2 linked regions of the Homo sapiens genome follow. The protein of the gene in region 1 purifies or fractionates together with the protein of each later gene. This does not show direct contact. Each region holds a gene or a part of one and is shown in the gene's direction. Other genes may lie near its edges.

Region 1 (5,274 bases):
AGTTTAACAGTGACTTGGTTTTCTTTTTGTTTTTTTGAGACAGAGTCTCACTCTGTCGCCCAGGCTGGAGTGCAGTGGCGCAATCTTGGCTCACTGCAAGCTCCACCTCCCGGGTTCACACCATTCTCCTGCTTCAGCCTCCTGAGTAGCTGGGACTACAGGCGCCTGCCAACACGCTCGGCTAATTTTTTGTTTTTTAGTAGAGACGGGGTTTCACCGTGTTAGCCAGGATGGTCTCGATCTCCTGACCTCGTGATCTGCCCTCCTTGGCCTCCCAAAGGGTTTTCTACATATCACACCATTGTCATTTAACTTTTAACAGGATCAAGAAATGTGGTGGTTTTGTAGCTTGGAATAGTTTGGGGCAGCCTCACGTAAATGGCAGGCTTGCAATGACAAGAAGTATTGGAGATTTGGACCTTAAGACCAGTGGTGTCATAGCAGAACCTGAAACTAAGAGGATTAAGGTAAGAAAGGACCTGCAAACACTTGATAAACCTGCGGAGAGTGAATGTAGGATTGTCTCTGCTGCACCTTTCTTGGAAGCCTTAACTGAAGCCAAAATGATTTTTAAAAGGGAGTAATTTATGGAAGGATAAAAAAACTTTTCAGGTAAAATAAGATGCTACTATTCTGGCCTAATTTATTGTAGAGGACAAAACAATTCTCTTTTTCCCCCTTTTTAGGTTCTTAGTTGAGACACTTTCTTGAAAATAAAAGTCAGATTAACTACAACAACAACAAACAAACAAGCAGACATTTGCACGTGCTGAACCCATTGTACGGGAAAGGCCTCAGTTAAAAGTATTTCTCTTCCAAGGCAGTGGCTTAGGGGCTTTGCTTAAATTGTATTTAAATAGCCATAGATCCTGCATAGTGACAAGATAAAGAAGAGAACAGTTTCAGTCTTTTAAAAGTCAGGAAAATGTGGAGAGATAGTAAAACCTGTTCCCAGATTTCTCTGGTGCCTGCTGGTTCCTTCTCTGGGCCAATAAACAAGTGCTGTCTCCAGTAAAGAAGGACTGATGTCCTGCCACCAGGCAAGTAGAGGCTGAGGAAGTGTACCCCTGCCTTTTCAGTGACTTGACTTTAGCAATCCTCAATATTTCGGGGAGAAATATTTTGGCTTCCCTCAGTTTGAAGTGTTAGGTTTTTGTTTCACCCCAGCTATGGAATTCTCCTGGTGAAATGGTCCTGCTGTTCTTCCTCACCTGCACCCAATCAGCCAGCATCACCTGCACTCAATCATGCAGCATCACCTGCACCCAGTCATCCAGCATCACCTGCACACAATCAGCATCACCTGCATCCAATCAGCCAGCATCACCTGCACCCAAGCAATCAGCATCACCTGCACCCAGTCAGCCAGCATCACCTGCACCCAATCAGCCAGCATCACCCACACCCAATCAGCCAGCATCATCTGCACCCAATCAGCCAGCATCACCTGCACCCAATCAATCAGCATCACTTGCACCCAATCAGCCAGCATCATCTGCACCCAATCAGCCAGCATCACCCGCACCCAATCAGCCAGCATCACCTGCACCCAATCAGCATCACCTGCATCCAATCAGCATCACCTGCACCCAATCAGCATCACCTGCATCCAGTCAGCCAGCATCACCTGCACCCAATCAACCAGCATCACCTGCACCCAATCAGCATCACCTGCATCCAATCAGCATCACCTGCACCCAATCAGCAGCACCTGCACCCAGTCAACCAGCACCACCTGCACCCAATCAGCATCACCTGCACACAGCCAGCATCACCTGCACCCAATCAGCCAACATCACCTGCACCCAATCAGCCAACATCGCCTGCACCCAGTCATCTAGCATCACCTGCACCCAGTCATCCAGCATCACCTGCACCCAATCGGCCAGCATCACTTGCATCCAGTCAGCCAGCATCACCTGCACCCAATCAGCATCACCTGCACCCAATCAGCTAACACCTGCACCCAATCAGCCAGCATCACCTGCACCCAATCAGCCAGCATCACCTGCACCCAATCAGCATCACCTGCACCCAATCAGCCAACATCACCTGCACCCAGTCAGCCAGCATCACCTGCACCCAATCAGCTAGCATCACCTGCACGCAGTCAATCAGCATCACCTGCACCCAATCAGCATCACCTGCACCCATTCAGCCAGCATCACCTGCACCCAATCAGCATCACCTGCACCCAATCAGCCAGCAACACCTGCACCCAGCCAGCATCACCTGCACCCAATCAATCAGCATCACCTGCACCCAATCAGCCAGCATCACCTCCACTTGGAAGCTGCCCCAACTTCCCTTTTCCACCAAGCCAAATAATCGCCCACCTCTACTTCTGTGGCATCCTTTGCATGCTACTAATCAGTGTCTTCATTGTCCTGAACTGCCCCCCAACACACACCCAGTCCATGAGCTGACAGTTCTCTAAAACTCCTGAGCCACTATAGTCTCTAGCACAGTATAGTGTAGGCTTCCAAAACTGGCAGCAAACACTTGTTAATTAATTGCATGAAGGGTTTCAAGTCTATAGATATCCCACATCGTGTGTTATAGATATCCCACTTCATTTTATCTAACAGATACTTAGGCAGAGTTTACTATGTGCTGGGCTCTGTTCAAAATAAGTACTACTATCCCCATTTTTCAAGGAAAATCTAAAGCATACAGAGGTCAATGCACCTCTGCTCACCCAGCCAGATAATAGAGGCAGGATTCAAATCCTAGAAGCCTGCTCTTAGAGACAGCACTCATAACCATTACATTGAGCTACCTCTCACCATTGGGCTATCTGGATTCTCCCTTTGTGATGTTAAATTATGGAATTAAATCAAGATATCTTGAAGGGTGTTTGCTAAATTGTTAGGCGTGATTACCTCTGGTGATGGGATTTCAGAGGATTGCAACTTCTTTACTCTTTACTTTTAACTACTATTTATATTTTACTAACTAAATATTAGCTTTATCCTTGCTGGTTAATTCTAAATGTTACTACTTTTGCCCAACAGGTAGGCTTTACATTTTCACTGTTTGCCTATGTATTGGTCTGTTCTCACACTGCTAATAAAGATATACTTGAGACTGGGTAATTTATAAAGGAAAGAGGTTTAATGGGCTCACAGTTCCACATGGCTGGAGAGGCCACACAATCATGGTGGAAGGTGAAAGAGGAGCAAAGTCATGTCTTATATGGTGGCAGGCAAGAGAGCATGTGCAGGGGAACTACCCTTTATAAAACCATCAGATCTTGTGAGACTTCACTATTATGAAAACGGCATGGGAAAGACCCACCGCCATGATTCAGTTACCTCCTACCAGGTCCCTCCCACAACACATGGGAATTATGGTAGCTATAATTCAATATGAGATTTGGGTGGGGACACAGCCAAACCATATCAGCTTACAAGCTGTTACACAGATGACCGCTTAGCAAAACAGGTAAAATCTTTGAATTAGCGAGATTGTGCTAAGGCAGAGTCTAGCTTATAATCATAGGCATTTGGTTCTGATTGCAGTTACATCATGCTGATGACAGCTTCCTGGTCCTCACCACAGATGGAATTAACTTCATGGTGAATAGTCAAGAGATTTGTGACTTTGTCAATCAGTGCCATGATCCCAACGAAGCAGCCCATGCGGTGACTGAACAGGTGACCCAGAGCTTCTGCCTGAAAAGTCCCAAGGAGAAGGAAGGAAAGGACAGTCCAGGCATTGTGTTTTAGCTTTTGAGTGTTGCAGTGAATTTTACACTTGATTCCATAATATTTCCAATTATAAAATTTTTATTTCCCCAAGTTAAAATTTTAATATGCCAAGGAAATGTGCTTTGTTTATTCTTTGGCTTTGTATATACCTTGAAATGATAGTAACAGCAATAGTAAATTATAATAGTAAACTAATATTCACTTGCTATGTGTCAGACAATATTCATATGTATTAGCTCATTACTGTATGTATTGTACAGTATGTACAGTTACATATATTGTAATCATCACAATAACCCTATTAGGTTGGAGCTATTATTGTCCTTTTTCACAGATGAGGAAAACAGGTACAGAGGCTACAGAGTTAATCACTGAAGGTCATAAAACTATTAAATTGCAGAACTGGACTTCAAACCCAGACAACTAGGTTCCCAAGTCCAACCACTTGACCGTTAAACTAGAGTGCTCCAAGCAAATATCCAATTTGAAGATATAGCATAGTCACCTTCTGGTTATTCAGAATGGGTGTGTGGAGAAGATAAACCAAAATACCAAAAGGCATAGGGATGAGGTTGTGTGTCAGTCAGAACTAAAATTAAAAGAAAGCTGGGTAATATCCAGTAAAGAAAACATAAACTATGCTTCGTATTATTTAAAATATTAGAGGCATGTTTTAATTCAACAGCTATTTTTGCATTTCCCAAATTAAGATAATAGACCTTACTTTAAAAGTATTATTTGCTTAGATGGGCAAACATGATTATAATATATGAATTATTCATTTGGTTACTGCCTTCACCCGTGCTAAACAGGGTATTCATGAAATTGAGGAAATAGGCCCAATTTCATGGATGAACACTTCTTTCCTAATTTCAGCTGCCTGTCTTGCAGATATTTGCATTCTAATTCACAAAGGTAATGAAATTTGTAATGAATGCATAGTGTTCCATTTTATTCTTATACATAATTCATTTAACAGTTCCTCTGGTCAAGAAATTTAGTTTATGTTTATTTTTTCCATTCTATAGAGGAAGCCCAGTAATAAACATTCTGATGTCTATTTGTGCATATCTGTTTCCTTCAGGAAATAGGTTTCATTCTTAGGAATAGTATCCAGGTGTGGTGGCATGCATGTATAGTCCCAGCTATGAGGGAGGATGAGGTGGGAGGATTGCTTGAGCCCTTAGAAATACAATCTTTAGGCCAGGTTTGGTGGCTTAGACCTGTAATGCCAGCACTTTGGGAGGCTGAGATGGGAAGATTGCCTGAGCCCAGGAGTTCAAGACCAGCTTGGGCAACATGGCGAGACCCAGTCTGTACAAAAAAAAATATTTTTTTTACTTAGCTGGGCATGGTGGTACATGCCTGTGGTGTCAGCTACTTAGAAGGCTAAGGTAGGAAGATCACCTGGGTCTGGGAGGTCAAGGCTGCAGTGAGCCGAGATCGTGCCACTGCACTCCAGCCTGGGTGACAGAATAAGACCCTGTCTCAATAAATAAATAAAATTTCTAGATGAAAGAATACACAATGTTCTAGAGCTTTTAATAAGTTTGCCAAATTATCC
Region 2 (5,274 bases), on another chromosome or scaffold:
GGACGGAGTGCAGAGTTCCCATATTCTCAGTCTGTCCCTTCCTGCGCGCTTTCTCCTATTTTTCTTTCTATTCTTTTCCTTTCTTTTTTTTTTTTTCTTTTTTTTTTTTTTTGAGACAGGGTCTCACTTTGTTGCCCAGGCTGGAGTGCAGTGGCACAAACACAGCTTACTGCAGCTTTGAACTCCTGGGCTCAAGTGATTCTCATGCCTCAGCCTCCCAAGTAGCTGGGACTACAGGCATGCACAACCACGCCTGGCTAATTTAAAAATTTTTTTGTAGAGATGGGTCTCACTTTGTTGCCCAAGCTGGCCTTGAACTCAAGGGCTCAAGTGATCCTCTGCCTTGGCCTCCCAAAGTGCTGGGATTACAGGCATGAACCACTAGGCCTGGCCTCCCCTATTTTTAACATCATGCATTGATAGGATATTTTTGTTACAGCTTTTTTCTTTTTGAAACAGTCTTGCTCTGTTGCCTAGGCTGGAGTGCAGTGGCACAATCTCAGCTCACTACAGTTTCTGCCTCCCAGGTTCAAGCAATTCTTGGGCCTCAGCCTCTCGAGTAGCTGGGATTACAGGTGCACCACCATGCCCAGCTAATTATTGTATTTTTATAATAGTAGAGACAGGGTTTTACCATGTTAGCCAGGCTGCTTTTGAACTCCTGGCCTCAAGTGATCAGCCCGCCTTGGCCTCCCAAAGTGCTGGGATTACAGGTGTGAGCCACCAGGCCTGGCCAATTTTGTTATACTTGGTGAGCCAATATCGATGCAATGTTATTAATGAAAGTCCATAATTTACATTAGAATTCCCTCTTGGTGTTGTACCTTCTATGGTTTTGGACAAACATATAATGATGAGTATCCAGTGTTACAGTATCATAGAGAATAGTTTCACTGCCCTAAAACTCTCCTGTGCTCTACCCATCCACCCCCCAACCCCCCTACCTATCCCTGGCAACCACTGGTTACTGCCTTTGTAGTTTTGCCTTTTCCAGAATGTCATATAGTATGTATGAATCATATGGTATATAGCCTTTCCAGACTGGCTTCTTTCGCTTAGCAAAATGCATTTAAGCATCCTCCATGTCTTTCTGTGACTTGGTAACCCATTTCTTTTTATCATTGACTAATATTCTGTTGTATGGATGTGGAGGTACCACAGTTTATTTCTCCATTCACATACTACAGGATATCTTGGTTGCTTCCAAGTTTTAGCAGTGAATAAAGCTGCTATCAACATTTGTGTGCAGGTTTTTGTGTGGACATTAGTTTTCTTCTCCTTTGAGTAAATATCAAGAGCGATTGATGGATCACATGGTAAAAGTATGTTTCGTGTTATAAAAAACTACCAAACCTTTTTCCATAGTGGTGGCATAATTTTTCATTTCTACCAGTAATAAATAAGAGTTCCTGTTGCTCCACAGCCTCATCAGCATTTGTTGTCAGTGCTCTTAATTTAACTCTTCTAATACGCATATAGTAGTATCTCATTGTTATATTTTAATTTGCAATCTGTAATGACTTACAGTGTTGAGCATCTTTTTAAATGCTTCTCTGCCATCTGTATATCTTCTTTTGTGAATGTCGGTTAATTTACTTGGCCCATTTTAAAATTGGGTTGTTTGTTTTACTGTTGAGTTTTAATAGTTCTTTGTATATTTTGGATAACAGTGCTTTACCAGATATGTCTTCTCTCCCCAACCATGGCTTGTCTTTTCATTCTCTTAACAGTGTCTTTTGCAGAGCAGAAGTTTTAAATTTTAATAAGGTCTAATGTACCATTTTTTTTCCTCCATGAATTGTGCTGTTGTTGTTGTATCTAAAAAGTCAAATCCAAGTTTTGGCAGTTACAAATAAAGATGCTGTAAACATCAGTGTACAGATATTTGTGTGATTTTTGTGCAATGCAGATTTTCTCCATTGTCTTGCCTTTGTCTCTTTGTCAAAGTTCAGTTGACTGTATTGATGTGAGTTTACTTCTGGGCTCTCTATTCTGTTCAATTGATCTATCTGACTATTCTTTTGCCAATACCGTACTGTCTTGATTACTGTAGCTTTATAGTAAAGTCTTGGGGACAGGCAGTATCGGTCCTCTAACTTCGTTCTCCTTCAATATTGTGTTGACTATCCCAGGTCTTTTGTCTCTCCAAATAAACTTGAGAATCAGTTTGTTGATATCCACAAATAACTGCTGGGGTTTTGATTGGGATTGCATTGAATCTATAGATAAAGTCGGAAAGAACTGACATCTGGACAGTATAGAGTTTCCCTACCCATGAACATGTACTATCTCTTCATTTATTTATACATATTTTTATGTTTTCATCAGTTATGGTTATTCTCACATAGATTTTGACCTATTTTAGGTTTATGTATAAATAATTCACTTTTTGGTGCTAATGTAAATGGTTTTGTGTTTTTAATCTCAAATTTCAATTGTTTATTGCTAGTATATAAGAAAGTAATCAATTTTTGTATATTAACCATGACTTTACATCCAGCAACTTTGGCAGAATAACTTATTATTTCCAGTTTTCTGTTGCTTTGTTGGCATTTTCCACATAGCCAATTATGTTTTTTGAGAACAAGAACAGTTTATTTCTTCCTTCCCAATCTGTAGACTTTTCATTTTCTTTTCTTTTCTAATTACATTAGCCAGCACTTCCAGTATAATGTTGACTAGGAAGGGTGAAAGGGAACATCCTTGCCTTATTTCTGATCTTAGGGGAAAAGCTTCTAGTTTCTCTCCATTAAGTATGATGTTAGCTGTAGGTTTTTCATAGATCTTCTTTATCAAGTTAAGTTCCCATTTATTACTAGCTTGCTGAAAGCTCTTATCATAAATGAATGTTAGATTCTTGTCAAATGCATTTTCTGGATCTATTGATGTGATCATATAATTCTTCCTTAGCCTATTCATGCGATGGATTACATTAATTGATTTTCAAATGTTTAACCTAGAATAAATCCCATGTGGTGGTTATGTATAATTCTTTTTAAACATTGTTGGATTCAATTGCTGATTTTTTTGAGGATTTTAACATCTATGTTTATGAGAAATATTGATCTGTTAGTTTCCTTTCTTGTAATGTTTCTGGTTTTGGTACCAGGGTAATTCTGACCCAAGAAAATTAGAGAATTTCCTCTACTTCTATTTTTTGAAAGAGATCATAGAGAATTGGCATAATTTCTTTCTTAAATGTTTAGTCATATTCATTAACCCTAGTGCTTTCTATTTTGGAAGGCTACTGGCTCCAGTTCTTTAATCAGTATAGGCCTATTCAGATTATCTATTTCTCTTTGTGTGAGTTTTGGAACGTTGTACTTTCAAGGGATTGTTTCATTTCATTTAACTTACCAAATTTGTTGATATAGAGTTGTTCATACTAGTATTTTATTATCCTTTTAATGACCGTAGGATCAGTATTGATGGCCCTTCTTTCATTTTTGATATTAGTAATTTGAGTCTTCTCTCTTTTTCTTCTTAGTTAACCTGGCTAGAGGTGTCTCAGTTTTATTCATCTTTTCAAGGAACCAGCTTTAGGTTTTGTTGATTTTCTCTATTGACAGCATGTTTTCAATTTCACAAGTTCTGCTGTAATTTTTATTATTTCCTTTCTTCTGTTTATTTTGGATTTAATTTGCTCTTCTTTTTCTAGTTTCCTAATTTGGAAACTTGCTTTTAGCTCTTTCTTCTTTAATAATATATGCATTCAGTGCTCTAAATTTCCCTCTAAACACTACTTTAGCAGCATCCCATAAATTTTGATGTTATATTTTCATTTTAATTTAGTTTGAAATATTTTAAATTTTTTCTTGAGAGTTATTCTTTGATTTGTTTACATGTTGTTTAGAAGTGTGTCATTTAGTTTCCATTTTTTTAATGTTTTTCAGATATCTTTCTGTTATTGATTTCTAGTGATTCTGTTGTGATCTCAGTAATCTCCATCATAGAAGTCATTGATATTTGTTGTTGTATGTTTTATGGCACAGAATGTGGTCTGTCTTGATGAATATTCCATGTGAACTTGAGAAGAATGTGTATTCTGTTGTTGTTGGGTGAAGTATTCTCTAAATGCCAATTAGATACACTTAATTGATGGTGCTGTTCAACTATGTCCTTACTGATTTCCAGCCTGCTGGATCTATCAGTTAGTGGGTACTGGCCAGGCACGGTGGCTTACGCCTGTAATACCAGCACTTTGGGAGGCCGAGGTGGGCAGATCACCTGAGGTCAGGAGTGCGAGACCAGCCTGACCAACATGGAGGCTCTACTAAAAATACAAAATTAGCCGGACGTGGTGGTGCATGCCTGTAATCCTAGCTACTCGGGCGGCTGAGGCAGGGGAATTGCTTGAACCCGGGAGGCGGAGGTTGCAGTGAGCCGAGATCGTGCCACTGCACTCCAGCCTGGGCAACAAGAGTGAAACTCCGCCCCCCCAAAAAAAACGTTAGTGGGGACTGACAGAGAGGTGTTGATGTCTCCAACTGTAATAATAGTGGATTCATCTATTTCTCCTTAAAATTCTGTCAGTTTTTGCTTTACACATTTTAGCACTGTTGTTAGGCACATACATATTAAGGAGTATTATGTCTGCTGGGATAATTGACTCCTTTACCATTATGTAGTGCTTCTCTTTATTCCTAATAATTTTCCTTTCTCTGAAGTCTGCTTTATCTGAAGTTAATAGAACTACTCCATATTTCTTTTGATTAGTGGTAGCACGGTATATCTTTCTCCATCCCTTTATTTGTAACCTATCTGGTTTTTATGTTGAAATGGGTTTGTTGTAGACAACATATAGTTAGGTCACGATTCTTTATTCACTCTAGATAGTCACATGTTTTAATTGGTATATTTACACCATTGATATTTGAAGTGATTTTTTGATATAGTTGGATTAATATTTACCATATTTATTACTGTTTTCTATTTGCCCTTTGTTTCTTTTTTCTTCCACACTTTTTTCTGCCTTTTCTGATCTTAACTGAGCATTTTATATGATTCCATTTTCTTTTCTCTCTTAGCATATCAGTTTTACTTTTTTGTTGTTGCTTTTTTAGTGGTTGACCTACAGTTTGCAATATACACTTAAATCTAATTTAAGTCTGCTTTTGAATAACACTATACAACTTTATGGGTAGTGTAAGGGCCTTATTGCAGAGTATTCTTGATTCCTCCCTCCCATGCCTTATTATTACTGCTATCATTCATTTCACTTATCCATAAGCTACAATCACTGAATACATTGTTGCAATTATTATTTTGAACAAA

What was found.
Region 2: the proteins of PPM1K (region 1) and ALDH1L1 purify together in Homo sapiens (co-immunoprecipitation; one large-scale study listed by IntAct). This does not show direct contact.

The regions. Positions count from the first base shown.
Region 1 is NC_000004.12:88,263,383-88,268,656, reverse strand, and holds part of PPM1K (protein phosphatase Mn(2+)-dependent 1K), read left to right. Parts: intron 1-322; coding exon 323-467; intron 468-3,521; coding exon 3,522-3,656; intron 3,657-5,274. UniProt on the Homo sapiens protein: Serine/threonine-protein phosphatase component of macronutrients metabolism.
Region 2 is NC_000003.12:126,173,219-126,178,492, reverse strand, and holds part of ALDH1L1 (cytosolic 10-formyltetrahydrofolate dehydrogenase), read left to right. Parts: intron 1-5,274. UniProt on the Homo sapiens protein: Cytosolic 10-formyltetrahydrofolate dehydrogenase that catalyzes the NADP(+)-dependent conversion of 10-formyltetrahydrofolate to tetrahydrofolate and carbon dioxide.